Regions from separate parts of the Homo sapiens genome. Here all the other regions are linked to region 3. Evidence: fine-mapped expression QTL. A gene starts in region 3. Each other region holds a variant in brackets. All regions are shown on one strand. Distances are between the middles of the regions.

The links. PIP is the estimated chance that this variant, and not a neighbour inherited with it, causes the effect.
Region 1: its variant is the best candidate, but not a certain one, in a credible set for the expression of PLEKHH1 in minor salivary gland (GTEx, PIP 0.63).
Region 2: its variant is the best candidate, but not a certain one, in a credible set for the expression of PLEKHH1 in sun-exposed skin (GTEx, PIP 0.82).

What each region holds. Positions count from the first base shown.
Region 1 is chr14:67,561,401-67,572,379 of GRCh38, forward strand. It overlaps PLEKHH1 (pleckstrin homology, MyTH4 and FERM domain containing H1), which reads left to right. Exons shown (of 29, transcript NM_020715.3): 6 at 554-635; 7 at 737-1,494; 8 at 7,738-7,816; 9 at 8,521-8,612; 10 at 10,352-10,502; 11 at 10,735-10,877. It also overlaps a transcript of GPHN not described here. Among named protein-coding and RNA genes, the nearest start is that of PIGH, 33 kb to the right of the region's middle. RefSeq lists an enhancer at 10,067-10,246. The variant TCGTGTTC/T (reference allele first, on the strand shown) is at 5,738.
Region 2 is chr14:67,582,068-67,590,641 of GRCh38, forward strand. PLEKHH1 (pleckstrin homology, MyTH4 and FERM domain containing H1) reads left to right here. Exons shown (of 29, transcript NM_020715.3): 24 at 2-143; 25 at 1,674-1,816; 26 at 1,928-2,057; 27 at 3,501-3,587; 28 at 3,884-4,030; 29 at 5,007-7,545. The coding sequence ends at 5,168. PIGH (phosphatidylinositol glycan anchor biosynthesis class H) reads right to left here. Exons shown (of 4, transcript NM_004569.5): 4 at 7,251-8,105. The coding sequence ends at 8,013. It also overlaps a transcript of GPHN not described here. Among named protein-coding and RNA genes, the nearest start is that of PIGH, 14 kb to the right of the region's middle. RefSeq lists a silencer at 2,212-2,261. The variant T/C (reference allele first, on the strand shown) is at 5,018.
Region 3 is chr14:67,527,514-67,538,492 of GRCh38, forward strand. It overlaps PLEKHH1 (pleckstrin homology, MyTH4 and FERM domain containing H1), which reads left to right and starts at 5,777. Exons shown (of 29, transcript NM_020715.3): 1 at 5,777-5,885. It also overlaps a transcript of GPHN not described here and a transcript of TMEM229B not described here. RefSeq lists a silencer at 5,401-5,870.

The DNA.
Region 1 (10,979 bases), 34 kb after region 3:
ATTAGCCGGGCATAGTGGCGTGCACCTGTAGTCCCAGCTACTCGGGAGGCTGAGGTGGGAGGCTAAGGTGGGAGGATGGTTTGAGCCCTGGTGGCAGAGGTTGCAGTGAGCCAAGATTGCACCACTGCACTCCAGCCTGGGTGATAGAGCCAGACCTTGTCTCAGAAAAGAAAAGAATATGCAGCAGCCACGCTCAGTGGCACATGCCTGTAATCCCAGCACTCTGGGAGGCTGAGGTGGGCAGATCGTTTGAGTCCAGGAATTTGGGACCAGCCTGGGCAACATAGCGAGAGCTTGTCTCTACAAAAAAATAAACGAAATTAACTGGGCCTGGTGGTGTGTGTCTATGGTCCCAGCTACTCAGGAGGCTGAGGTGGGAGGATCAGTTGGGCCTGGGAGGTCAAGGCTGCAGTGAGCCAAAATTGCTCCACTGCAATTCAGTCTGGCCAACAGAGCAAGACCCTGTCTCAAAAAAAAAAAAAAAAAGAATTGAAAAAATACATCTAAACCTGTAGGCTGGGTGTCCTAAATCTTCATTTTTCTTTTTGCTCAGCTTGAGATGGAGAATCAGCATCTGAAAAGCCATAATCAGCGCCTGGTGGAGCAGGTGGGATCCCTTCAAGATGCGCTAGAAGGTAGGCAGGCCAGGGTGTGCAGGTGTGCAGTACGTGTGTTTGGTGGGTATGGGGCTGAGCTACGGGAGCTCTCAATGTGACTGTTTTTACCCGAATCACAGCTATTCAGATAGCTCCTTCACGGAAGCTGCTGGTGCCCCCCTACGGAGCTGCAGAGCAGGATTCTGTCCCTTCAGAGCCGGGAATCCAGCCTATGGGCCAGGACAGTGGCTCCCAGGCCCAGGGTCTGAAGGCAGCTGTGCTTGCACCTTCCCCAGGTGCCCTGCAGAGCAAGGACTCTGTTTCTGAAGCAGCAAGCCCCTTGGAGGATTCTAGTTCCAGCACGGTCCATTCTGGGGAAACAGTAGAGGCCAAGCCCCTTCAACCTCATCTGGGAAGAGAGAGCCCTCCCCACCAGCCATGCATGAAGCTTCTTACCTTCAGATGTAGTTCAGCTTCCTGGGGTGAGGGTCTGGTTACTGCTCAGAGAGGGATGCTCCCTGGGACAAAGACCTCTGCCAGGGAAGGTGGTCCTGGCAGCAGTCTGACCCTACCAAAGGTGCGGGCTCCTGGCACCCCGCGGGACAGCATCCAGTTGGCCAAAAGGCACCACAGCCAGCCCCAGGTGGGCCATGGGCACTTTGGCCGTGTGGTGAACATTGAGACTGAGGCCTTCTCAGCCCTCCACCCCTCTGGCCTTCCTGAGCTGGAGTCCCGAGCTAGGTCCCGGGAGGAACCAGAGAAGATGGAGATGGAGGAGCCACCCCCAGCAGGGAAGAATGAGGAAAGAGAGAGCCCAAAGGCCCTTGGAGCTGAGCTGGAGGAAGTGGAGCTGGGTAACAAGCCACCTACACCCCCGCTGCACCAGTTTTCATCCTGGGTAAGAGGCAACCTCCGGGCTGGGCAGAGGAGCAGAGCTAATGGCAAGAACACTGCTGGCTGAGCACAGCCATGCACTGAGCAGGAGAGGAGGCTGCTGGCATCCTCATGGTGGCCCTGGCAGGCAGGTACCATGGAGCCTGTGCAGACCACACAACCAGTGAGGGTCAGCGCCAGAATTCAGAATGATGTGAATGGCGGTTGGCTGTCATTTCCTGAGTGCTCACCGTGCACCATACATTGAGCTGGGTGCCCTGCATACCTTTTCTCATTTAATCTTTGTGAGTCTTTCAGGTGGTCTGGTATGATGGTCAAGAGCATAGGCCCCAGAAGCAAACCACTAGGGTTGAACTGTTAACTACGTGACCTTGGACATGTTACTGAACCTCTGTGCCTCAGCTTCCCTGTCTATAAAATGGGGATAATAGTACCTACTTTATAGGGTTGTTGTGAAAGTACTTACAGTAGTGGTTCACAGTAGGTGGTAGGTAAGTGTTGGCTATTTTTCTTTCTTTGTTTTTCTTTTTCTTTTCTTTTTTTTGGGGGGTGGGGGTGAGGGGGCAGAGTTTCACTCTTACTGCCCAGGCTGGAGTGCAATAGCATGATCTTGGCTCACTGTAACCTCTGCCTCCTGGGTTCAATCAATTCTCCCGCCTCAGCCTCCCAAGTAGCTGGGATTACAGGCATGCACCACCACGCCCAGCTAATTTTGTATTTTTAGTAGAGGCAGGGTTTCACCATGTTGGTCAGGCTGGCCTCAAACTCCTGACCTCAGGTGATCCACCCTCTTGGGCCTCCCAAAGTGCTGGGATTGTAAGTATGAGCCACTGAGCCTGGCTTTTTTTTTTTTTTTTTTTCGAGACAGAGTCTTGCTCTGTCACCCAGGCTGAAGTGCAGTAGCACGGTCTCGGCTCACTGCAACCTCCGCCTCCCAGGTTCAAGTGGTACTCCCACCTCAGCCTCCCAAGTAGCTGGAATTACAGGTGTGTGCCACCATGCCCGGCTAACTGTTTTTTTTTTTTTTCTGAGACAGAGTCTTGCTCTGTTGCCCAGGCTGGAGTGCAGTGGCACAATCTCAGCTCACTGGAAGCTCTGCCTCCCAGTTTCACGCCATTTTCCTGCCTCAGCCTCCCAAGTAGCTGGGACCACAGGCACCTGCCACCACGCCCGGCCAATTTTTTGTATTTTTAGTAGAGACGGGGTTTCACCATGTTAGCCAGGATGGTCTCGATCTCCTGACCTCGTGATCCGCCCGCCTCAGCCTCCCAAAGTGTAATTTTTATATTTTTAGTAGAGTCGGGGTTTCACCATGTTGGCCAGGCTAGTCTCAAAGTCCTGACCTCAAGTGATTCACCTGCCTAGGCCTCTCAATGTGCTGGGATTATAGGCAACTGCGCCAGGCCAGCTTCCTTACTTGTAACATTGGATAAAATGTCTTGATATCTGTCTGGTAGAAATACTTCAGAAGCAATGATCTGGTTGGTGGCCAAGGGTGGGGACACAGATGAAGCATGACTGGCCACACATCATTAACCTTTGCCAAGCTGGGCGATGGGCACGTGAGATCATTCTTTTTTTAACTGAGACAGGGTTTTACTCTGTCGCCCAGGCTGGAGTGCAGTGGCGCAATATTGGCTCACTGCAACCTCTGCCTCCTGGGCTCAAGCAATCCTCCTACTTCAGCCTTCTAAGTAGCTGGGACTACAGGCATGCACCACCATGCCTGGCTAATTTTTGTATTTTTAGTAGAGACAGGGTTTCACTATGTTGGCCAGGCTGACATTTTTTTTTTCTTTTCCTTTTTTTTTTTTGAGACAGAGTCTTGCTCAGTCTTGCCCAGGCTGGAGTGCAATGGTGCAATCATGGCTCACTGCAGCCTCAACTTCCCGGGCTCAAGCAATTCTCCCACCTCAGCCTCCCGAGTAGCTGGCACTACAGGCATGCACCACCATGCCCAGCTATTTTTTAATTTTTTGTGGAGATGGGCTAACACTATGCTGTTGCCCTGGCTGGTCTCGAACTCCCAGGCTCAGGTGGTCCTCCCACCTTGACCTCCCAAAGTGCTGGGATTACGGGTGTGAGCCACTGTGTCTGGCCCTGTACCTGACATTTTCCATGATAAAAAGTTAAAATAAAAATGAGACAGGCTATAAAAATGACATTTCACAGGTCACTAGTGAAAATGGCATGTGGGTATTAAGGGCTTCGCACGGAGCCTGTGGGAAGGGCTCCTTTCCTTGCAAGGAGTAAGGTGTGGTTTCTCCCTTTTACAGGTCAGGAAACCACTGTTCCCCACAGACTTAGGTACTTGCCCAAGGTCATGTAGTAGTTAGTGAGGGAGCCAGGCTTTATTTATTTATTTACTTGAGAGACGGTGTCTTGCTCTGTCACTCAGGCTGGAGTGCAGTGGCACAATCACAGTCCACTGCAGCCTTGTACTCCTGGACTCAAGGGATCTTTCCACCCCAGCCTTCTGAGCAGCTGGGACTACAGGTGCACACCACCACACCTGGCTAATTTTTTAAATTTTTTGTAGGGATGGAGTATCCCTATGTTGCCCAGGCTAGTCTCAAACTCCTGGCCTCAAGTGATCCTCCTTTGTCAGCCATAAGAGCCACCTTACCCGGTCTGAGAGCCAGGCTTTAAATGTAGTTCCAGCTGCTTTGAAGCCCAGCTCTCACATTCCAGCTGTACTTCCTCTTAAGGGACATTGCCAGAGCTAAGGTCAGTCTTTGATTCATGGGCAGACATCCCCTCCACAGATGCTGCTGGGGTGTGTAGCAGTACCATGGGGGACAGCTAAGCGTTGGCTCCTGGCAGCAGGAGGAATGAGGTCACTTGGGAGAGGGGGTGACATCAGGGTGGACTCACCCCACACCACTGCTCGGGAGACCTGTATTTCCAGCAGTAACTCCCAGGGCCTCCTTTTGAAATGCTGGTTCAAATCCGGGCTCAGTAGCTTATGCCTGTAATCCCAGCACTTTGGGAGGCTGAGGCAGGCAGATCACTTGAGGTCAGGAGTTCGAGACCAGCCTGGCCAACATGGCGAAACCCCATCTCTACTAAAAATACAAAAATTATTTGGGCATGGTGGTGCACGCCTATAGTCTGGCTGCTCGGGAGCCTGAGGCAGTAGAATCGCTTGAACCCAGGAGGCGAAGGTTGCAGTGAGCTGAGATTGCGCCACTGCACTCCAGCCTGGGCGACAGAGGAGACGATCTCCAAAACAAAACAAAGAAATGCTGGTTCGGGAGGCACACAGCCCTAGACTTTTGGGCTATATCCTTGGCAGTGACTGTTGATCAGCTTCTGGTTGTTTCAAGGACACCTGTAAGACTGGAGACCCAGTTGAGCCAAGAGTGGGGCACATCAGGAAGACTAGGGGATGGAAAAGCACTGGTCCCCCTGGGCTGCTGGCTCTCTTCTTGCTCTGGAGTCCAAATGCAGAGGTTGGGAGCAGGAAGTAGTCAGGCAAGGAATGTGCAGCTGCTACCAGAGAGAAGCGTTGCTCACTTTGCCATTTTGCCAAAATACAGCCATTCACTGTGATAGCTTAAGAGTAGGTCTTGAGCCGGGTACAGTGGCTCACACCTGTAATCCCAGCACTTTGGGAGGCAGAAGCAGGTAGACTGCTTGAACTCAGAAGTTCAAGACCAACCTGGGCAACACGGCGAAACCCCATGTCTACCAAAAAAGATACAAAAATTAGCTGAGCATGGTGGCACATGCCGGTAGTCCCAGCTACTCAGGAGGCTTAAGTGGAAGTTAAGTTTGAGCCCAGGGAGGTGAAGGTTGCCATGAGTCAAGATCTTGCCACTGTACTCCAGCCTGAGTGACAGAGCCAGACCCTGTCTTGAAAAAAAAAAAAAAAAGAGTGGGTCTTCTCTATCTGAACAGGTTAAGTGTATGTGTGTGAGAGAGAGGGTGGAGGAGGAGAGGAGGAATGGGGAGACGAGGAGTTATTGTCTCCTCTTATTCTGTATAGAAAATATATCAGATGACGTTCTCCCCAGGAACCTCAGCTGAACTCTGGTGATGAAGGTATTAAGGGGATTAAGGTATTAAGGGGCAGCGTCAGGTCTTCCCACAGAACCTCCCTGCCCCCAGCTAGGCCCCAAGGACCCAAGAATCAGCCAAAAGAATGTAAGGAGATCTCATCCTGTTTGCAATCCCCTTTGTAACTTGCTCCTGGGGAAAACAAGACACAATGCTAGCTCCTTCCCAGGCCCCTGAGGCATGATCAC[TCGTGTTC/T]CGTGTTCCGGGGAGAGCTTAAGAAATCACAGTGGCCAGAAGCCCAGCCTCTCTCTCTCCCAGGCAGGACCAATGGGGCAGTAACCATCTGGGGAGGGCGGTGGGGGAATGAAATGTCAGAGAACATTTCTCAATCTGACGGTGTGAGAAATACTTATGTATCTTAGAGTTTGGAAAGCCCTTTTTTCAGTTAATCCTTAAAACAACCTTGTGAGTTAGGCATTAGATAACATTTTGTCAAACAGTCATAGGTTTCGTTTTACCTAAATCCTTCAAACTTCAGTTTCATTTCCTCTGCAAAGTTAGAGGCTTGTCCTTGGTTAAATTCCATGACCACTCTGGGCAGAAATAATCCTTTTTATGCCGAATTTTACTTGGGCTCGATGTATCTGCCCTACACGAGCACAGAAACTCCCTGCCCTGCTGCAGGGCCCTCCTTGGCATCCTTCCTCACCGCCCCTCTGTCTCCTGCCGCCCCTCCAGTGATCTCAGCGTCTCATGGCAGCACTCATCAGCTCTGCCCTCTCTCCTCCCAGTTGTCCCAGGGCTGCTGCTCCCCTCTGGGATGACACCCTGATAGGCACCCACCTCCCTTCCAATGCCATCTCCTAGCCCATCTGACCCCACCAGGTGACAGCACATCTAGCTACCTCCCTGAGCCAACAGGGCATTCCTCCAAAGGCTGGTCAACCTTCCCTCGTCAGCCTTGGTGACTCACGTCACCTTTGTTTTCCTTTAGGCTCAGTGGAGCAAACAGATCCAGAAGGTGCAGGGAACCCTGTGGGTTGTTTATGAGCAGTCAGGGCCATTAGGAAAAGCTCCTTTGGCCTGTGGCCTACTTCAGACCCAGGGGCCCCCTCAGGACGGGCATTCTCCCAGTGTCTTCTGCATGGGGGTGCTGGAGTCCTGTTGGGCTAAATAGGCTTTGTAGATTGGCCCTGAAGCCTAGCCATGATATGACATTATTCCTGCAGGGGAAAAAACGTGCCCTAAGTTCCCACATATGTTCATCACAGCACTACTCACAATAGCAAAGACATGGAATCAACCCAATGCCCATCAATGGTAGACTGGATAAAGAAAATGTGGTACATATACACCATGGAATACCGTGCAGCCATAAACAGGAATGAGGTCATGTCCTTTGCAGGGACATAAATGGAGCTGGAAGCCATTATCTTCAGCAAACTAACGTAGGAACAAGAAAACCAAACATTGCATGTTCTCACTTACAAGTGGGAGCTGGACAATGAGAACACATGGACACAGGGAGGGGAACATACTTAGTGGGGCCTGTCAGTGGATGGTGGCGGTGGGGGAGTATTAGGGAAAAGAGCTAAAGCATGCTGGGATTAATACCTAGGTGATGGGTTGTTAGGTGCAGTAGACCACCATGACACACGTTTACCTACATAAAAACCTGCACATCTTGCATACGTACCCTGGAACTTAAAAAACAAACAAATTATTTTTTAAAAAAAGAAACAATAGAGAATTTTTTAAAAATGTGCCCTAAGTTCCAAACAACTGGCTTACAAAAGAGCCCTTGTCGTGTGGCCGCAGTGGCTTCCTCATTACCAATATCCCCAACTTCTGGGGGTTAGATCTTGAGACCCAAGGGTCTCTAAAACGGGTAGGATTCAGAGCAACAGTTTACTGACCCATCTTCTCTTGAACCTCCTTTGCCCCAAAGGTGAAGGGTGGAGGCAAGAGAGGGAACTGTTGGGCACTGATTATATTCCAGGTGTTAAATGCTTATGTTAAGTATTTCATTGATTCTCACAGCAGCCTGAAAGGTAAGTATTATTACCTCCATTTAGAGCAGAGGAAAATGAGTCTCAGAAATGAAGTAACTTGCCCAAGATTTGTTAGCCAGTCACTGCCCCCCACAGGTCTGCCCACCCCCAAAGCCATGCTTTTTCCTGCACATGCCTGGAGGGGGTGGGATGGGCATCATGCCGGGCCCTGAGCTTCCTGAGACCTCTTGTTTCAGGAGAGCCGGATCTATGCTGTGGCCACATCGGGCATGCGGCTCTCAGATATGTCTCCCAGAAGTAATACTGCATGCTGCGGTGAGTTCCAAGTGAGGCTTGGAGGCACCAAACACCCAAGGTGGGCAGGGTGGGCAAGCGGGGAGGAGAAGACTCCAAGCAACACCCAGGGCCAGGGTTGGCTGGCCTACCCTGTTCCCCTCCCCAGCAGGTGAAGTTCAGGTGAAATCACAGCAAGTCCCACCTAGGAGGGAAAGGGAAGTCGTACAGGTTCAGCCCATCACAGGAAAGTAGCCAGTCACAGAGCTGGAAGGGATCTGAGAGGGGGCCTCCAGCCCAGCCTCCCACCTGCACAGGCTTCGCTTCTGCAGTGCCAGGGCCGTGGGTGGGAGGAGCCACAAGTGTCCTGATTTACATGAACCCCACTCACTGGCTCCTCTCCAGCCAGCCACCAAATCTCCACAACGAGGGCTGTGGGGTGGTCCCATAGCCGTATGATTTGTAACTCACATCTGCAACAGTGGAACACTGTGCAAGCCTCATGGAGGAAAAAATGGTTAAAGGTAAGGCTTTTGGATTCTTTTGTGAGGGATCCTTTACCACATGGAGATCATGGTCCCCAAAGGGAGTCAAGGGGAGAAGATGAACAGGGCCCTGGCCCCCCTCTTGAGATCTGTCACTGGCCTGCTCCTGGAGGGAATGCCATCTGCCCAGTTCTCTGCTTCCCCCACACCCCTTCCTGGGTTATGCCCTTGAGTAATCTCATTCCTCTCTTCCCTGCTCAGCTTCAAGCCCTCCTGCCCTTGTTTCCCCTGGGTCTTTCTCTGGCCTGGTCTACAAGAATGTCACTGTGCCTGTCTACACAGCACTGAAGGGGGTAAGAAACTGCTGCACAAAGAGGGGGTGTCTCATCAGGAAAGGCCCCTGGCCTCATCATCCAATGACTGGGGCGGGGCTCTAGGGCCAGGCTTCTGCACATGGTGACCCTGCCCAGGGAGCTGAGCCCAGCACGTGTCATTTTGTTTTATTGTTTATTAGGTTATTATAAAAATTCCACATTTACAAAAATGTGAATCAGTATGAACGTGGACAAGGTAAGAAGGTTAAGCCTATGCCCGCTTTACAGCTCTCCCCACCTTTTCTCATGTCTGCCTCACTCCTCAGGTCCCAGAGGGCAGTGGGGCTCCTTCTAGAATTACTGAGGTATATTCCAACTTATATTCCCGTAACGTCACTACATTTTAAAAACAAAAATCAGATAGAATTGCAATATTTTCATACACATTTTTGTCTCTGTTACTGGTTTTTGAATAATAGTAATACTTGATAAAATTTTTTATAGAAGAATAAAAAACCAAAAGTGAAATTTCCTCTCACGTCGCTTTTCCCTAATTCCTAAGCCCAGAGGAAGCTATCATGAATGGTTTAGTGTTTATTCAGTAAGGCCTTCCGATGCATTTATAAATATGCAGCACACTCTCACTGTCTCCTGTGTGCACACAAAAGGTGCTCATATACATGTCATTCTATGCCTTGCTTGTTCCCCTAACCACGTGAATAACCACGTGTCAGGTCATCCTTCCCTACCTCCTCCTTTTTATTTTTCCGAGACAGAGTCTGGCTCTGTTGCCAGGCTGGAGTGCAGTGGTGCAACCTTGGCTCACTGCAACTTCCACCTCCTGGGTTCAAGCGATTCTCCTGCCTCAGCCTCCTGAATAGCTGGAACTACAGGCGCGCACCACCATGCCCAGCTAATTTTTGTATTTTTAGTAGAGACGGGGTTTCACCATGTTGGCCAGGATGGTCTTGATCTCTTGACCTTGTGATCCGCCTGCCTCAGCCTCCCAAAGTGCTAGGATTACAGGCATGAGCCACCATGCCTGGCCCCTACCTCCTCCTTCTATAGGTGTCCAGTACCCTTGGTATCGAAGCACCATAACTATTAATACCTAAAGCTTTCCTCCAATAATAATTTAGTCTGTGTCCCTGTTTTTCTCTAAAATGAATGTTGCCATGAACATCACTGTGCACATATATCTTTGGGAACTTATATCTACATGTGTCTGTAGGACAGAGTTCTAGAGGTGGGATTTCTGGGCAAATTATATACATGTTTTAATTTTTGACAGGTACTGCCAAATTACCTTCTAAAAATGCCTTACACACTAGAGTTTTTTCCCCCATCTTCTCCCCATACTCTCACCAACACTGAGATAGTCAGTCACTTTAAATGTTTGCCAATGGAGATGCAATCATTGATTGTTGCGACGTCCCCACACATTTTTAAAGCTCGCATGGCACACTTAGTCTGTGGTGTAGCTTTCTGGCCCCCTAGTGGCAAGGAGCGAGGGTCACAGTGGGCAGGCATTCAGTCGTGATGGGCAGCTGCTTTGGGGACCACAGAAGATGGTGTGTGGGAAGGGAGGCCTGAGAAGCATGGAGGTCATGACACAGGAGTGAGGCCAGGAGGGACCTTACACTGGACAGTTGTCTGTTCAGAGTCCCGGCTGGGGGTTGGCCACACCATGGGCACTTGGACCAGGAGTGCAAGCTGCAGGGTTGGGAGAGGACTGTTTTGCAGCCTGAGCTGCAGTGAGGGAGGGGCCTGTCTTGCAGAGAGCTACACAGATCAGCAACATGCCCTTTATGGACGAGTCCTCTGGGTCTGACGATGACTGCAGCTCTCAGGCGAGTTTCCGAATCTCGGTCCCCTCCTCTGAGTCCAGGAAGACCAGCGGACTAGGCAGCCCCCGGGCCATCAAGAGAGGTACAGAGAAGGGGAGCAGGGGCAGGGTGCAGCAGCAAGGAGCCCCTCACCTCTTCCCATGGGCACTTGAACATGGGCGTCCCCACTTGATCTGAGCTCGTGACCCCCCAGCAGCTCCACCCCCAGCCCCAGAGACCGGGTCCCGGGTGGGTGGTCAAGTCTCAGCAGCTCCTGGGCTGCGTGAGTCGGGGAGGTGTGGGACCCGGGCCTTGACTCCTCCTCCCTCGGCAAGGCGTCTCCATGTCCTCACTGAGCTCCGAGGGTGACTACGCCATCCCCCCGGACGCCTGCTCACTGGACAGTGACTACTCAGAGCCTGAGCACAAACTGCAGCGCACCTCATCCTACTCCACCGACGGGCTGGGCCTGGGCGGGGTGAGCCGGGAAACGGGCGGGGGCAGGGTGGAAGCAGAATGCAGCAGAGGCTGCTGGGGCCCTCAGCACAAGACATAGGCAGTAGCTGCCTGAAGTGAGGGG
Region 2 (8,574 bases), 53 kb after region 3:
GGCTGTACTTTCGCAGTCAAGTCAAAGGGGAGACGGACCGAGAACGGCTGCTCCTTGCCTCTCAAACCAGTAGAGAGATAGTGGCAGGGAGGTTTCCTATCAACAAGGAATTGGCTCTTGAGATGGCTGCCCTGATGGCCCAGGTAAGGTTCTGTTCAGGAAGCAGGAGGGTCGGGTTGCCAGCTTAGAATGAATGCACCATGCAGCCTGAAACACAGGAGAGATTCTGCAGATCCTGTGGTGCTCAGGAGAGGGCAGCTTTGCCATCTCTGGGATGGAAAGCAGCTGACTTCTACAGATCAGAGCTCCTCACTCACCGCAGATATAGGATGCGTGCAGATGGCTGGACTTGGAATCCAGAGACCTGGGTTTGAGTCCTATATACCTTCCAACTATGAGGTCTTAGCCAAGTCACTTCACTTCTCTATGCTTTAGTTTCCTTCTCAGTATACCAAAATAAAAAATACTTGGCCGGGAGCAGTGGCTCATGCCTGTAATGTCAGCACTTTGCGAGGCCGAGGCGGGCAGATCACCTGAGGCCAGGAGTTCGTGACCAGCCTGACCAGTGAAACCCTGTCTCTACTGAAAAAAAATAAAATAAAATAAAATAAAAATAAAAATTAGCTGGGTGTGGTGGTGGGCGCCTGTAATCCCAGCTACTCGGCAGGCTGAGGCAGGAGAATCACTTGTACCTGGGAGGCAGAGGTTGCAGTGAGCCAAGATCATGCCATTGCACTACAGCCTAGGCGACAACAGCAAAACTCTGTCTCAAAACAAAACAAAACAAACAAACAAACAAAAACCTCTGCCAGCCTCCACAGGGTTGTACTAAGTATGATACCTGGATAATTGTATCATGTAATGTATGTGGTAAACTTCATAAACCATCAGACCTTCTAAGTAGACTTAGGAAGAGGAACACACATTCAGACTTGGACTCTCCTTCCCATTATATTTAGAAGGCCATCTTGCCAAAGGTATCTGGGATACCTTCATGACTCCCATAAGAGAGTCTGACACCTACTATATACCCACAAAAATTAAAAATTAAAAATTTTTAAAAAAGAATAAGAATCTGGATTTACATGCTGGAAAGGAAGAGGAAACAGTAATAGTTGATCTTTATAAATATCAATAGGAATACTCTCTAGGAGGCCCTGTACTAAGCATATATGCATCCTCCATTGTAGTTTTTATTCCCACCTAATAGATGAGGAAATTGAAGCTCAGAGAGTTTAAGTAACTTGATCAGGGACACAAAGCTGGGATTTGCGCCAGGTGTCCAACTCCAAAGGCCACATTTGGAACACTCTGCTGTACTCTAGGATCTGTAGCATCTTCAATTCTATAGCCCATATTTTTGGACTGGAAGCCAGAATTTCCACATTGTTTTCCCTTGTCGGCTACCAATTAACTGTGTCTTTGGAAAAGGCACTTCACCTCAGCTGCAAAATCAAAGTTGGTCGGTGATCTCTAATATTCGAGGGCCCTAAGTTTGTTTCTCTAGTGTCTATAAAACTTGAGATGAAGCGTTTTTCTAAAGTATTTTTCACAACCACTCGCACCCCACCAATAGGGTAATAAAGAAATGGTTTATTTCACCTCTCAACAGCCCCCACCTGGCCCATCCACTGTCAGATTTTGACTGGTCTCTTCATATGCTTCTACCACAGGTAGAATATGGGGACTTGGAGAAGCCTGCCCTGCCAGGCCCTGGAGGCACATCCCCTGCCAAGGCTCAGCATCTTCTCCAGCAGGTCCTAGACAGGTTCCACCCCAGGCGCTATAGACATGGGGCCCCCGCTGAACAGCTGAGGTAGGTAGGCTACAAGGTCTTGCAGCAAGTCACTGTGGGGAGGTCTCAGGCCTGGAATGAAGACACGTCGGCACTTCATTGGCACTATTTCTCTCCATCTGCCCACACCAGGCACCTGGCAGATATGTTGACCACAAAATGGGCAACATTGCAAGGATGCTCCCCTCCTGAGTGCATCCGCATCTACCTGACCGTGGCCAGGAAATGGCCTTTCTTTGGTGCTAAACTTTTTGCTGCTCAGGTAAGTGCCAGTGGAAGGAGCTGCCCACACCCTTAGGTGTGTCCCCAACTGCTCATGTTTGAGCCATACCAATTTGCAGCCCCTACCTCCATACCAGTAACCACCAGAGGTCACTATCCCTCCACTGTTTCTGGCCTAGTCCAGCTTTCCACAGTCCAGAGCAGAATTGTGATTGCTTATCTTCATTTGTCCTTTGTTGACTGCCCCAAAAGAAAAGATGTGATCAACTAATTCACACACACAAAGATTCAGACTTGAAATAACAGCCCTCTCAAGAGTGCTTTCATTTTTTTTAAAGTTTGAAAGAACAATGTATAACCTAAACAAATACATCTCCACTGGTTTGACATGGCATACAGGGGAATCAAATTACTTAGCCAACAGTTAATTTCACCTCTGTATGAAGGCCAGGTGGCCAACAGTAATTTCAGAAGGAACTTTTCTTCACTGGGTGTCTGTTGTGCATAAACTTTATAGATAATTACAGCTCAAAGCTGGGCAGTGATCCTGTTTACTGAAGCCACAGATCGGAAAATGGCCATTCATTCATTCAACAAATAGTTGAGCTCCTACTATGTCCAGTGCTGGTTGTTTGAGGTTATAAGAAGTGAGAAAATCAGACACAGTCCTTGCCTTCCTGGAGCTTCCCATCTAGTGCAGGAGATGTATATTCATCAAATAATCGTATTCATTTTTTTCTCTATGTATTTAATATATATTTATAAGCCATCACAAATGCTATGAAGATGTACAGAGGTGTTATAAAGGCATATAACAGGGACCCACTTGGTCTGGGAGCTTAGGAAAAGCTTCTGAAAAAGGTGGCATGTCCAATGTCTATCTGCCTCCCTTTGGGTTAAGAGAGAGATTTTCTGGATTACCATACTGTAGTCCTGGCAGTGAAAATTAGTCATTACAGGAATGTCCACTAAATAGTCACTTTCTTACTGATAGGGCCTAAAGCCACAGGACTGCATTCTTGCTTTCCTATTTCTTTTACAGCACCTAGGAGATTGGCTGAAGTCAGAAGCACTTCGGCTTGGAGACTATAGGTGGAATGCCGTGTTTCCAAGACTAGGAGAAAACCAGCTGTTCCCCATTCCCCTAACAGAGCAGCTAGGGCTGGCCTCTATTCTGTAGCACAGAGCTTTCCATCCAGTGTGCTGTGGCAGCATGGGTTCTAGGGACATCAAAAGAATGATCGCCTCTGCCTTTGAGATGGTTAGTAGGTGGCCAGAGCCCCAAGGCCAAGGGTCTCCTGTCACAAGCAGCCTTGTCTATTTCCTGCATACACTGTACAAATATCATCTTTGTTTTCCAAGATGAGGTGGCTGGAAATCACTGCTTAGCAGATCCCTGGATGTGCCTTCTTTCTCAGAAAGTTATTATAGTTCAAAATCTCTAACTATGGATATATCTGATGGGTTGTTTCTGTTTCCCCAGCCTGCCCAGCTGTCTTCCAAGGAGAACGCTCTGGTGTGGATTGCTGTGAATGAGGATGGCGTCAGCATCCTGGACCACAACACTATGGTATGAAAGGATGCAGGCTGCTCCCTGACCCCTCCTCTTCCTCAACATGGTCTTTTCTTCTCCTCTGTGGACTCAAAAGCCTGAACCAAGTGACCATGGCTGCCCTACCCCCACTCCTGCCCAAGCACCAGTCCTCTAGTCTAGACACTGCTTGTAGATATTCAAGATGGAGATCTCCAAATTATGACCACTTGGGAGTTCTCCTTTCCTGTGCCTAGAAGAGACAGGGGATGCTGGTTCCTAGCTCAGGGGACAGGTGGAAAGTTTCCCCACAACTGACTGGTTCCTTTCCACAGCAAGTGCACATCACTTACCCCTACTCTTCAGTGACAACGTTTGGTGGCTGCAGGGATGACTTCATGCTTGTGATTAGATCTATCCCAGACAAGAGCTCTGGAAAAAGCCACATTGAGAAGTTGATCTTCCGGATGGCTGCTCCCAAGGTAGGTCTGACAGCTGTTAAAACGTTCTACTCTGGCAAGATGTGGTGGGCTTGGAGCTTAGAAAGGAAACTGGGGTTATGCTAGTGCTCTGCAAGGGCCCTGCCCAGATAAAATTGTTGGTCTTGTCTGTAATTAGTATTCCAAAGGTTCAGGTGGTGTTGCATCTCCGTATCAATGTTCAGCTAGTAGGTAAAGGGACATATTTGGAGGGAACTAACTCTGGCCTAGCTACTATTATGCTCTTCACTTTTTCTTTTTTATTCTCTCAAGCCCCAGCATCATGCAGTCCTCAGTTGGGTGCTTACGTGCTCTTCTCTTCCTTGCAGCAGTCCTCAAGGCAGGGCAGATTCCTCTTTAAGGTGCTCGCATGTTACCCCTGGGTTCTGCTGACCCAACATTAGCTACAAAGTGGGACAGTCCCACAGTGCTCCCTCTTCCTTGTTGTGGGGAAGACCGCAAAAAGACCTCTTTTGCTTTAGTGACTTTGTTCCTACTCAATACAGGAAGTGTTGACCAGCAAAAATAATAATTACAAAGGCTAAGTTCTGATTTATTGTTCCTGACTCCCGTGTGATTAACTGGAAACCCTGTTGTTCTCCTTTTTAATCCTAAAGTTAGAGTTTGCCAAACCTACTCCTCCTTTAATACCACCCCTGCTAAAGGGGAGGATCTCCAGATCCCTTTCTTAAGAAGGCCCCTTCCCTGGTTGTAGAGCTAACCAGAGCAGAACACTGGGCCTCCTTTTCTCAGAAGGGCACTGTGCATCTGAGAGGATCTCCAGACCAACAGGAGCCCACACCACTGGGCCTCTGAACAGCACAGTTATGATTCCCTTTGGATATTTTCTCCCAGGTGGGTATTTTAAGAGATTAAATAAACTGAGGCCCAGGAACTCAGCATAAGAGCTAATAAGTAAGAAAGCCAGGATTCAAGCCAAGGCTAGTTCAATTCCTTCACATCTCTGACCTCCTCTTAGATTGCAGAAGC[T/C]ACCTTCATCATGGCCAGCTATATGAACCATTGCACTACAACTGTGAACCCCCCCACCAACCCACCCGGAGCCTGCCAGCTGTGGGAACTGGATGGACGACAGTTCTTTTCTTCTGTTTCCTGTGCTACCAAGGGGCCAACGTTGCTGTGAATATTTCTCCTACCCGATTCCCCAACACCACTAGTGCCTCTGGATTTAGAGATATATATCCTAGGGTATGATACTACTGTGACGGGTCTAACAGCCCCCGGCTACTCTTGTTCTGTGAAATGTGTATTTTAGTCTCTGTGAAGCCTTTACTCTCTAGGTGCCTTATAATGTTTCAGGGCTCAACTTTTTAAAATCCAGACCCAGTGTTAAAACCATTTATTCCTTTTTTCATAAGAATAATGACTCCAGATGCTACCTGATTCTAGACATAGACAGGGATGATCCACTGTTACTGAGGGCATCAGTGCTATAAGTTAAGGCTTTCTGCACTGGTACTCTCAAGGAAGCTAATTTTCTTTCTGGGGGGGGCGGGGGACACAGTGTCACTATGTCACCCAGTCCACAGGGTTCAAGCAATTCTCCTGCCTCAGCCTTCGGAGTGGCTGGGATTACAGGTGTGCGCCACCATGCCCGGCTAATTTTTGTATTTTTAGTAGAGACGGGGTTTCACCATGTTGGCCAGGCTGGTCTCGAACTCCTGACCTCAGGTGATCTGCCCACTTTGGCCTCCCAAAGTGCTGGGATTACAGGCATGAGCCATCGCCCAGCCCAGAAGCTAATTTTTTAATATTGTATATGGTCTTATTTATACTTGAAGTTTTGTGAACGTCGCTAAACAGGATAGGACTAAAATTTCCAATTCTCCTACACTCTGTCAGAAGCCTAGAACTCACTAAACTGGGCTGCCTTTCCCAAATGGGAAAGGTGCTGACAGAGTTGGAGAAAAAAGAATAGACTCATTTTTCCCCATTATTGGTATGTAGGCATTGGTACAGCCCCTTCTGGGGCAGTCTTTGCAGGATAACATGCTATACCTGCTAAGATTCAAGCTGTTTTCCTCACACTGGACTTTAGGCCAAACCCAGTACCACGCAATGTGCAAGCAAGGGCAGGAGGTAGGTCCAATCTGACCCCTCCCTGTCTCATTTTAATGACTGGACAGCGCTCGGTGAAGGCTGTGTTCACTGTAGTGGGCCATCATTTGTTTCCTTCTTCTTGTAAAAGACCAAGCAAATGCACTCTGCTTTTTGCTGCTGTAAGACCACCAAAAATGAGTCAGAAACACAGAAGACTATTTCAGGCATGTGGGCCTGGATATGCTCCTTGAGACTTCTGGCAAACTTCTGCTGGGAATTAGTTTGAGGGTGAGGGTACATATGTGACATTTGCCCTAGCCTAAGAGTAGCAGGTAAAAAAAAGTTTCTTTCATCTTTTGCCTTACTGATAATACCATAATCCCCCTCAATTCAGACCTTCTGATTGAGTGCAGAGGAGACTAGACAGTCTCCTCTAGACAGGTTGTAGACACACCCTCCCCTAACAAAAACAAAACGAAAGAGTTCATACTCTGATTTTCCAACATCTAGGAAACTGAGTTTTATTTCCTAGCTCTAAGGCAGCCTTACTATATGTCAGTAAAGTGCTGAAAACTGTATATTTAGCAGTAGCACCCAAAACCAAGCCTTTAACCCCAACAATGTGTGTATCTTTTGCACAGCAAAAACTGCGAGGCCAGAACTAGTTTATCTGAACACCTCAGCTGCTGTAAGCTTCTCCTCTCTCACCCCGTAAACTGACAAGCATGATGAAAAAAGAAGCACATCCAAGTTTCTGCCTCTTTTAAATGTACTTGACTTTGCAAGGCAAGTAGTTTTACAGCCATTTCTGTTCACACTTTTCACCCCACAACTTGGGGATCTAGCTGAGACATTTCTACCTCGAACAAGTCACATGTACCACAGGTTCCTGAATAATTCCTGCAGGGCTGGTGACAGACATAACAGCTCTGGTTTTATAATATCTTGGGTATCTCTAAGGCCAATAAGGATAACATTATCTACCCAGAGAGTTTAGAAGAAAAGTAGGAGTCCAAAGGAAGAGTAAACAAGAATGGAGCTGTGTTCACACTGAATTTGGGGTCAATCTATTTCCCCCACCCTCTCTCCTCCCCAACCCTTCAGGAACCCTTTAGTTTATTAATCTTATACAGAAGAAACTAACTTAGAAACAAAGGATTCAATATTTGCTTATTTATTCTTTGTTAACATGAGAGTCCCATGTCTGAAAACCAAAGTCCAATTTCTGTCTGGCCTTTTGTCTCATCCTTCTTGGCAAAAGTAGCTTTTGAACTGATATAAAAAAAAATGCTGAGTAACAGAAAAGTATTAATGTGCTTGACACCATGACTGAAATACTATGATCTTGTTTGTCAATAAAAAGCAGCTATCTGTGAACCAGGTAACTGTGTGTTTTGGAAGATCTGTTTATTAACAGTAAATAAATAAGCCCTGTACAGAACACAGGCACTAGGTTGACAGACTCGTCTTTTGTAGGACATTTCTTCCTGCTAACCAGTACTGAAGGGCTTGTTTTTTTCGTAACTTTACACAAGGGGTACTATTGGAAAATATAGCTTTCTCAAGACATCTGATGTCAGTTTCCCATTGTTTTGCTTCACAAACATCAACAAAGTAAACCTGAACATGCTTAGCAATTTCCGAAAGTGTTCTTTGCTGACATTACTTTTGACATACTGTGTCAAAATTCTTAAGGTCTCCCCTCCTTTGGTAAAGTAGGCAAAACCTTACAAGGAAAACACTATAATACACGGAAATATACTGAGTTAGATTTCCAGTCACCTGCTCTATGGCTCTAAGATGCACTACATCCATAATGGTTCCTAGGACTGTGTCCACCTGATGGTTTGGAGTACGGAAAACCAGCCCCTATGGCTTAAGAGTCATCTCCCATGGAAGACAATGCTGGCCTTCTGAACGCTGGGGCTCATGGGCTTGTTGATGTGGCTTTCTGGTGTGCCAGGATCTCCTGGCAGCTCCTGTATACTTCAATCAAGCAGTCCAGCCGGGGCTTGGCACTCTGAATTCCAAAGGGGAGAAATGCGGAGTCAAGGTGAGAATATAAGGGAGTGCAGTGGTGCTGCATCCACTTGCAAATTTTTTTTTTTTTTTTTTTTTGAGACAGAGTTTTGCTCTGTTGCCCAGGCTGGAGTGCAGTGGCGCAATCTCGGCTCACTGCAACCTCCGCCTCCCAGGTTCAAGTGATTCTCCTGCTTCAGCCTCCCGAGTAGCTGGGATTACAGGTGCTCGCCACCACGCCCAGTGGCACAATCTCGGCTCACTGAAACCTCTGCATCCCGGGTTCAAATGATTCTTGTGCCTCAGCCTCCCAAGTAGCTAGGACTACAGGCACGAACCACCATGCCCAACTAATTTTTGTATTTTTAGTAGAGACAGGGTTTCACCATGTTGGCCAGGCTGCTCTTGAACTCCTGGCCTTAAGTGATCTGCCCACCTCGGCTTCCCAAAGTGCTGGGATTACAGGCTTG
Region 3 (10,979 bases):
ATGTTTCGATTTTTAATTAGGAGATTAGAAAGAAAGATTTCATTTGTTTGCAGTGCCCTGCAATGGCTGGCTGTGTCCCCGGTGTGTTTTGGTGAAGTTGCTTCTATTCCCATTCAGCAATTCTCAGATAAACCAACAATGTGTTTTGTACCGCAGCAGCCCCTCATTCCCCAGCATGACCCTGGTGAAGTGTCCATTAATTCCTTATCTCCAGGCTGAGGATGGCAGCCACGAAGGTCCTGCTTCTATTTTACAGTTAGGTGAGGCACAAAGAGTTGCTGAGATGTCCTCAGATTGCGGAGCAAAGTAGTGGCTGAGCAAGAACTCACTCACAGCTCTGCATGTAGGACCCCACCCCAGACCTCTGGCCTCTTCCTGTCAGCGAAAGTAGTGGCTTTGAGGAGGGGAGGTCAAGGAGCATGAAGAGGCCCTCCAAAGTCCAGTTGCCCTGTACTGAGCCACCTACTCCTCCACGCTCTCCCTCTCCTACAGTGGCCCACTGTGGACACTCGGCAAGCACATGATGAATGTATGAACACAGGACCTCTCGTAGTTCAGCTCTGAGATGGGCTGGTGGGGACTCAGATAGATTGGAGTGTGAGGGTGAGGTAGGGCTGGGAGACTTTCCTTTCTCTTGGCTTGGGTCTGTCTTCTGCTGAGGAGATAATAATAACAACCAGCATCTACTGAGTACTTACTGAGTGCCAAGAACTGAGCTAGGTGCCAAAGCTGGAATTTGAACTCTGGAAGTTGAACCCCACTGTCAGCATGAAAACCCATTGTCTACAGCGGCCACACATGTGTCCCAGAAAAGTAAAGGGTCACTGGCAGCTCTCTGACAGGCCTGGGTTTCCTTGGCTTCTTGGAGCCCTAGTCTCTCCCCACACAGGCTCCCTGGGCTGTTGGAGAACCTGCCACCTACTTAAAGCTGGTCCCTGCCCAGTTCCTCCCTCCCCCAATTGATGTGAGCAGCCATTGTTCTCATCTTTGATGAAAGCTGTTGGAGAAATAAGACAGCTGCTTTAAAACTAGGATGTTGCAAACTCTAAAATGATCTAGAATTGCAGTCAGATGGCTGGATTTACCTGATCCTCATTCCCTGAGCTCCACCAGCTCCCAACTCAGGTGCTCTTTCTCCCTCCCTCTCCTGTCCCTATCCCATTAAGCCCCCATTCACCTGGCTCTCTCTTGCCCGTATAACCCGCAGCTGCAGCGGACAGAGCATTTTGCATTGATATGTGTTGTAATTACATCAGTTCCGCCCTGGCAGTTGCTCTCTGAGAAAAATCACTCAAGGGCATACCAGTCAATACAGACCCCAGACAGGTGCGTGACAATGCAGACTCCTGGGCCCACTGATCTGAATAGCTAGAGGTGGCCTGGAATCTGTATTTTCAGATCAGCATTTTAAGACATGAGGTTAGATTTGGAATCACTGCCCACCTCCTCATTGGAATCCTTCTCCACCAGGCCCTCCTTCCATGCTGCTCCTCCTGGGTACTTTCCAGCTCCCTAGTCTTTGGGCGCCTTGCTAGTCCTTTACACCTCTACACCTTCAAGTTCCCTCCTCATTTCATAATATTTACTAGATTCCAATAATATGCCAGGCACTGAGGCAGGCCCTTTATCTCCATCTTTATAATAACTCTCTAAGGAAGGAATTCTGATTCCTGATTTACAAACGAGGAACACCTTCCCTCCCCTCCCCATCCGCTGCCTGGCTCTCTCTGGCTCCCATACCCACAGGTATACTGAACAGATTATTTGCAGTGAATGTATGTGGTAACTGCATTACTTCCACCCTGTGTCCCCTGGGTGGAAGAGCCAGGATTCAAGGACAGGCATGTCTAGTTCTAAAGCCTGTGCCCAGAGTTGATAGGTCACACTTGCCACACTTTCCTTCCTAGCACAGTGGCTGGAAAATAGCAAGTATTCAATAGATATTTGTTAGTGAGTAACTGAATGAATAAATGAAAGAAGAGTCCATACTTAAAGTTAGGACACTTCCTCCCATCTTTCCATACCCATCTCACATGCACACATATACACGCTCACACACACACTGAGGATTTAGCCACTGGGCCATTTCCTTTCCTTCCTAACTGGCCCTTCTCTGCATGTCCAATCACTGCCTTCCTAGCCCCACTTAGATGGTGACTCTTGACACTCTGCTCTAACCCATGGTTACCTCACCTCTCATGTCCCATGGTGGCTAATCCTGACAATCACCGAAGAGCCAAATTGCTCCCAAAGATTCAGCAGTAGAAGTAACCTCCTGACTTCTTTGTGACCCAAGGCAGAGAGCAGAAGCCTGGACTAGGACTGGCCCCAAGTTTCCTGGGAGTCTGAAACTCCCTTCTCCTTCTTCTCCCCTCTCTTCCCCTTCCAACAGTAACTGAGAACCAGGTCCTGAAGGCAGGAGGAGGGGATCCCTTGATTTGAGGCTTTTTTGGTGATATAGGAGAGGGTCTCTTTGGAGCTCAGAGAAAGCAGGTAGGGATGGGAAGCAGGGTTTCTAGAAGGCTCGTACAAGGGAAGATGAATTGTCAACCATTTCACCAGCTCTCCTAGAGTTATTCCTGTCTCTCAAGCCATCTGCTTATCCATTGCAATCTTGTAAACAGAGATTTACAAGATCTCTCGTAAACTCCAGCCAATATTTGTTCAAAGAATAAATAACAAAAGCTTCCATTTATAGATCACTTGCTGCATGCCAGACAACATACTATCTCATTTAATCATTTCAACAACCCTAAGAGGCCAGAATTATTATCATCATTATTTTACAAACATGGAATTAATTCAGAAACCTTAAGCAACTGCCCCAAGGTCCCACCACCACTTAAGTGATAAAGCTTAAACTGAGCTCTGGCCAGTTCCAAGTTCCCCTTTCCCTCCCATAGTGCTGTCCAAGGAACAAGGCCCAGACTAAGATGCTGTAATATTGACTCTGTAGGAATTTATTTTTTAAACATTCCAGCCTAAACCATGTAGTGTGTGTATATAAAGTGACTCTCCTGTAACTCCTAGAGTGGTTAGTTAGCATCTGAAGTGCCCTAATCAGGAATCCGCACTCCAGAAAATGGTTACATAAGCACTTCAAACAACATCAAAATATACACCCAAGGGCTTAATGTGCTTGAGGGATGCTAGAAATAATCTTTTATTGGTGAAATAAGCAGTTTTCAAAACATGGAGTTGGCCAGGAAGATTATTTGCCCTTGCATGAATGGAGTGTGAGAGCCAGAGCAGGCCAACTGCCCCATTTTCTTGAAGCAGGCTGTGTGACTGTTTTGTGCCAGCTTGCCAATACATGTATATTTGGCAGAATTTGGCCTTAACTATTTTTAATATCCCACCTGCAGGAGATTACAGAAAAGAAGACGAATGGCCTCCTCTCACCTCTCACGTCCCATGGCAGCTAATACAATCATTGAAGGACTAAATTGGCTCAGACCAGTTGACAAGTCCCCATCCCGGCCTCATCTTCTTTCACAAGAATGCCCTAGCATATCCTTCAACTCAGGCACATGATGGCTTTTCTTCCCATCTCTCTGTTCCATCCTCCATTCTCCTTTGTCAGGTCACTTGTAATAATAAGCTAATATCCAAAGAAAGGGGCTCTAGGGGTGATGGTGGGTATTATAGTCCCAGCTACCTGGGAGGCTGAGGCAGAAGGACTGCTTGAGCCTAGGAGTTCTGGGCTGCAATGAGCTATGATTGCCACTGCATTCTAGCTTAGGCAACAGAGCAAGATCTTATCTCTTAAAAGAAAACAACAACAACAACAAAAGTTGTAACTTGCCCAAGTCACATAGCTAAAAAGTGGAAGAGACATAACTGAAACTCAAGCCTCCTAAATTCCTAATGTAGGGTTCAGTCCACCTCTACCACCCTCCCACAGACTGCCAAGGGGTCCTGCTCAGAGTTGGGCAATGGTGAGATGCACTCTATGGCCCCAAACTCATTGAAAGTAACAACTGAGCTGAAAAAAATGTGGAGTCTCTTCTGCCCTCTACAGAAGTAACCAGCTATAGGGGAGAGCATGCTCCTCCCATTCCACTCTCCATGGTGCGTCTCTTTTCACTATATAACAAAGTTATATTAAATGAGTTCTGGGCCGAGGTGCGGTGGCTCATCCCTGTAATCCCAGCACTTTGGGAGGCCGAGGCAGGAGGATTTCTTGAGTCCAGGAGTTTGAGACCCCACCTCTACTAAAAAAAAAAAAAAATTTTTTTTTTTTTTTTTGCTGGGTATAGTAGCATGTGCCTATAGTCCCAGCTGTTCATGAGGCTGAGATGGGAGGATTGCTTGAGCCCAGGAGTTCAAGTTACAGTGAGCTATGATTGTGCCACTGCAATCCAGCCTGGAGAACAGAACAAGAAGAACCTATGTCCAAAAAAAAAAAAAAAAAAAAAGTGAATGAATGAATTAATGTCTTCTTAGCAAAATCCAGAGAACGTGTTTTTGGGCTTCCTTATGCAACTTCTGGAATGTTGAAGTGGATAGCCTGAGCATTGTCCCACAAAATGGGGCTAATCTATCCCAATCCCCACGAGCTATAAAGCTGTTTGCAAGTTCAGCCATTGAAGTCCCATTGGCCCAGTTAAATTCTCACGTTTGGCCTCCTGCACTACCAGCTTTCCTTAGTGTCTGGGCTCTCAAAACTTCTACGTGAGAATGGCCTGGGGTACTTTAGTTAGAGATTCAGATTCAAACCCAGGGTGGGGGTGTTCTTCATGGTGCCTGGGATGAGTCTTCCAAGGACCATTTGGAGAAACAGGCGCTGATGGTATTTTGCTTCTGTTCAGTCCTTCACTGACAGAGAGCCTGCAGGGTTGAGGAAGAAGGCTCTGTTTTGAAGTGTGGATCCCTCCCTGCAATGGTCTCTATTTGCATCTTCTTTACTCCAGGCTCACCTAGCCAAATGTTGAGTTTTCCAACCCCTCTGGGTATGAGATTGCTTTGGGCGATCTGAGATCTGCAAATGTCTGAGAACGAGGAGCACATGGGCACGCTGATGACTGCCCTGCAAACTGCCTGGCAGCCAGGGTCCTCCTGGGCCCTCCTTTAAAATAACATATACATAAGCCGGCCTGGAGGCCCAGGCGGGAAGATCACTTGAGCTCCGGAGTTCGAGTCCAGCCTGGGCAACATAGCGAGACCAGAAAATAAGCAAGTAAGTTACTCTCTGGGCTGTCGTAACTTATTTTTTCTTTTTCTCCTGCAAATTGCAACTCAGAACATTTGGTCTGCCAGACTGAAATATGGACTTCTGTTCCAAATATCCAGACGTTACAGTTCCCACAGGTGGCCAGGAGAATGCTGGAACCTTTGGCGGAGACGGTCTGGTCTTGTCCCGCAGCCCGCGAGGGTCCCCCGCTATTTGGGGTCAAGCAGATCCCCGGGGCGCTCTGGCCACCCCTTGCGGCAGCTGGTGCGGCCTCCTCGGAGAGCTCCGGGCCGGCGCCCGGGACACCCCGCCGCCCTCCCTGCCGCCCCAGGGACGAGCCCAGCGGTGCGGAGAAGTGGGAGGCTGGAGCCTGCTGAGGTCATTTCCTGTGCCTCTCCGCGAGCTGCCTGGAGAGCTGAGCCCAGCGCTCTGCCTTTAAGGAGCGGGCGGGGAGCCGAGGGGAGGAGGGCGCCCGGCGGAGCGTTGAATGGGGCGCAGCAAGGCTCGGCCGGGCTTTGTGCAGCGAGCCCGCGGGCACCCCTCCCGCTCCAGCCTCGCCCCGCCCCGCAGCCCACGACCCCTGCTGCCGGGGAGGGGAGAACCGGCGGCAGCCCGGGACTCCGGCGAGAGCGACGCAAGGTCGGCTGCGGCGGCGGCCCGAGGGCGCCCGTGTGCCCAGTGCGCGGCGGGGACGGCCGCGAGCTCGCTGGAGGTGAGCGACCCGCGCTCCCGCCGCTGTGGTGGGCTGGGGCTGCGCCGCGGCGGAGGGCGTCAGGCTGCGCGCGGGGGACGGCCCCTCGGGCCCAGAGGACGATCCGGAGCAGGTGCCTCCCTACCTGGAAGCGAGCTCCCAGCGGCGGGGAGCGCTGGAGCGCGGGTCTGGCTTGGGAAGCCGGGCGCCCCAGGGGACTCGCGCCGCGAGGCCAGGAGGAGCCTCCCCCGGGAGTACCTGGACTTGGGGATCGGTCAGATCCAGCCGCTCCTGGGAAGGGCCCTCGGAGCGGACGTGCAGGCTGCCACCTTGCTATCGGTGCTCGCTCCCTTTCACCCCTTCCCGCACCCCTCCCCATCTCACCTCAGGTTATTTCTTCTGTGATTTCTGAGTGTTGTCTTTGGGACCCTATGGCTCAGGCTCGACTCCTAGGAGCAGGTCATTCAAGCAGAAAAGAAAACAGGTTGGGCGCCGAATGACACAGAGCATTGTGTCCTAGGAGTCTTAGCGAGGACTCGGTCACCAGGAACCAGGGGCCTTAGTGGGGGTGGCAGAGGCGGTGAAGAGCCTCATCTGGAAGGAAACTCCTCTCCTTGTGGGATTTCTGCTTGCCAGGATATCTCCTCCATAGCTTTTACTATGAATCCACCTCATAAAACTCTTCCAAGACAGAGCCTTGGTTCAGGTAAAACACTTGAAAGACCATTTAAAAAATTCAGTGGGAGAATTATCAGTTCCTTCATCAAACTGTTTGGACTGTCTTCTATGTGACAGACACTGTGTATAGGGCTAGTACCATCACTGAACGCTTTATAGAACATCGGTATTAGTGTTTCTGCATATTATTGGCCCCATTTTTCCAAAGGAGGAAGCTGGGACTCTGAAAAGTTGTGATTTAGGCCAGTTGCAGTGGCTTATGCCTGTAATCCCAGCACTTTGGGAAGCCAAGGCAGGAGGAGAGCTTGATGCCAGGAGTTCAAGACCAGCCTGGGCAACATAGGGAGACCCTGTGTCTACAAATAAATAAAAATTTAAAAATTAGCTGGGTGTGGTGGTGTGGGCCTGTAGTCCCAGCTAACTTGGGAGGCTGATGATCCTGTCTGTTAAAAAAAAAATTGTTGTGATATGCCCATGGTCACATAGCTAAAAAGTGGAAGAGCCATAACTGAAACCCAAGCCTCCTAAATTCCTAACGTATGGTTCAGTCCACTTCTACCACCTTCCCATAGACTGCTGAGGGGGCCTGCTCAGAGTTGGGCAATTGTGGGGTGCAGCCTGTGGCCCCAAACTCATTGAAACTAACAACTAAGCTGAAAAAATGTGGAGCCTCTTCTGCCCTCTTCAGAAGTCACCAGCTGTAGGGGAGAGCATGTTCCTCCCATTCCTGATAGAAAAAAAAAAATCCAAAGAAATGTCTGGCAATTTAAAGTGTACATCATTTACCCCTAAATTCCATTTTCTGGGACTTTATCCTTCAGATATACTCTGATGTATATGAAATGGTGTACATCATTGAATATTCATTGCAGCATTGTTTAGCAAAAGGTTGGAAACAATCTAGATGTCCATCAATAAGGAACCCTTCAATAAGATCATGTAAAAGCCACACGATAGGATACATTAAAGCTGTTATAAAGCGTGCAGAGAAAATGTGGCAGATATATACTTTGATGTAGGAATATCTCTAAGTTATATTGTTGAGTACAGTGTGTATGGTGGGCCACGATTTTTGGGTGGGTGTGTGAATGCCACATACATATGAATGCCTGTAGATGCTCTGAATATCTCTGAGAGAACACACAGAAACCTGTAACAGTGGTTGCCGCTGGGGAGAACTATGGCTGAAGTACAGGCATGGGAAGAAGCCTTACTTTGCACTATATACCCTTTTGTTCAATGTTCTAAAATAACTTTAAAAATCATATGACCTCCTCTCCAGATCTCCAGAGTTAGATCTGGTAGTGAGCACATCTTTTTTTTTTTTTTTTTTTTTTTTTTTTGAGCCAGAGTCTCGCTCTGTTGCCCAGGCTGGAGTGCAGTGGTGCAATCTCAGCTCACTACAACCTCCGCCTCCAGGGTTCAAGCAGTTCACCTGCCTTAGCCTCCCAAGTGGCTGGGATTAACAGGCATGCGCCACCACACCTGGCTAATTTTTGTATTTTTAGTAGAGACAGGGTTTCACCATGTTGGCCAGTCTGGTTGAACTCCTGACCTCAGGTAAGCCGCCTGCCTCCACCTCCCAAAGTGCTGGGATTACAGGCTTGAGCCACCGTGCCCAGCCTCGTGAGCACATCTTTGGGCCACATCTCCTTTTATGTTCTAGATGCTATTGGTTTGCCTTTGTTTGCTGATTACAACAATAACAGTCATTTATTGAGTACTTAGTGTGCACCAGGCTTTTGTAATATCTCCTTTAATTCTCAAAAAGCCCTGCATGATGTGATATATGAAATGGCCATTTTGAAGGTTGGAAAATGGTTAAATGACGGTTTCATATGGTTCAACCAAATATTATTGTCCTGATTTTCAAATATTACTGCCCTCAATTTCAGAATGGAACTGAGTCTCAAAGAAGTTAAGCAAATGGCTTAAGGCCACAGGATTATTTAGTGCCTGAGCTCGTATTCAAACCCAGGCCTGTCAGTGCCAGAGCATGGGATCTTAGGTACTAAGCTGTTTCTCTTTGCTGTTTTTGTTCTCAAGGAATGTTGTACCTGGTTGTCCTGACCACTTCTTTTGGTATTGAGGTTCCTGCGGCCTAGGACATGCTCACCTTCTCTGTCTCCCCGGACATTGTGTGGAATGTCATGTAGGCACCCAGCAGTGGCCAAATGGATGTTGTTAGCTTGATCAGATGACAGTGCTGAGATCAGAGGAAGTTGTCCCTGTGTACACTCACACCCTTCTCCCAGCCTCATCCCCAGAAACGGGACACAAAGCTGTTTCTCTCCCACAATTGACAAGTAGTCAGCCACGTCTGGCAGAGCACTTTTAGAAGATGGTGGTAGCCCCTCACTAGCAAGTGGAAGTCATACAGATACTCACACTCAGGGAATGAACCATACTGAGGCAATATGAGAGAGCCCAGTGGAAACTGTGCATATAACAGAAGCCCCGTTGCCTTCCAATGCCTCCTGCATCCTCCACAAGATAGAGGCAATGAGCTATTTTGAGGCCTGTGGTGACCTCTGACCTCTTTCTTTTAGGGTCCTGTATTGATTAGCTACCTTTGTAGGGAGCTACCAGGATATTCAGGCTGTAGACTTGAGCCTCAAAAGCCACAATATCTTTATTCATCTTTATATCCCCAATCTTGCACACAGGACTCACTTAAAAGTTGTTTGTATTAAACTTAATCTTGGGGTCGGGAGTGGTGGCTCACGCCTGTAATCCCAGCACTTTGGGAGGCCAAGGCAGGTGGATCACCTGAGGTCAGGAGTTTGACCAGACTGGCCAACATGGTGAAACCCTGTCTCTACTAGAAATACAAAAATTAGCCAGTGTGGTGGCATCCGCCTGTAATCCCCGCTACTCAGGAGGCTGAGGCAGGAAAATTGTTTGAACCTGAGAGGCGGAGGTTGCAGTGAGCCGAGATTGCACCATTGTACTCCAGCCTGGGTGACAGAGCGAGACTCCATCTCAATAATAATAATAATAAAATAAAAACTTAATCTTAGGCTGGGTGTAGTGGCTCAACACACTTTAGAAGAATGAGGCAGGTAGATCACTTGAGCCCAGGAGTTCGAGACCAGCCTGGGCACCATGGTGAAACCCTGTCTTTACAAAAAATACAAAAATTAGCCAGTGTGGTGGCATCCACCTGTAATCCCAGCTACTCAGGAGGCTGAGGCAGGAGAATTATTTGAACCCGGGAGGCGGAGGTTGCAGAGAGCCGAGATTGCACCATTGTACTCCAGCCTGGGTGACAGAGCGAGACTCCATCTCAAAAATAATAATAATAATAATAATAATAATAATAATAAAAACTTAATCTTAGGCTGGGCGCAGTGGCTCAACACACTTTAGAATAATGAGGCAGGTGGGTCACTTGAGCCCAGGAGTTCGAGACCAGCCTGGGCACCATGGTGAAACCTTGTCTTTACAAAAAATACAAAAATTAGCCAAGCACAGTGGTGCACGCCTGTAGTCCCAGCTGCTTGGGAGGCTGAGGTGGGAGGGTCACCTGAGCTTGGGAAAGTTGTGGCTTCAGTGAACCATGATTGTGCCACTCACTCCAGCCTGGGCAACAGAGTGAGACCCTGTCTCAAAAGAAAAAGAAAAAAAAGTAATCTTAGCATTTTGTCAGTTTCTGCTCAAAATCCTCAAACTTGCCAGAGAGATCCCAGGTCAAATTTGTGTTTTCTCTGATACAGACTCTGAGTCTGGAGTCACCTAATGACTTCCTGTGCCACCTTCCCACCCATCCTACTCCCAGCCCCTGCCTCTGGGGCATATCCCCACTGACTGCTGTGGCATTTCAGTCCCGGGTGTTGGAGGATTCAGGGGATGCCAAAGCAGGTATCAAGACTATGGCAGTTTTTTGATTCACCTGCCAAGCAGTTTAGCAGGCTGGGTGCCAGCAGAATCAAGAAAACTATGAGTTTCATAAGACTGGCCAACAGCTGATCGTAATTTTAGCGGGGTATTGGGGACAGAGGGACTTATTGTACTATTCTCCCTATTTCTAATGTGTGATAGAGCATTCCAGAATAAAAATAGAAAAAAAAATTGAGCTGAGTTTTGTTTCCAGCTCACTTCCCCTCTCTCATTTCCCCATTTATTTTTTGCCATTAATGTATTTGTGTTAGACTAGCCTGTTAGTATGAGATATCTGCTACCACTACTGAAGCATCATCATGGGAAGAGGACAATTGTAGATATTGGGAGATCAGGATTCTTGGCCCAGTTCTGCTACTCCTTAGCTCTATGCAAGGCTCTAAGCAAGTCACAGATGTGATGAGTTTTCTCATCTGTTCATTGTGACTAATTGTGTTCGTCCTCCATCTCAGGGATAAAGAGAGAAATAACACATGCGTCGCAATGCTTTGACAAGTTACAAACTCTACTGCAAATGTAAGGTATTCATTTCTGCTC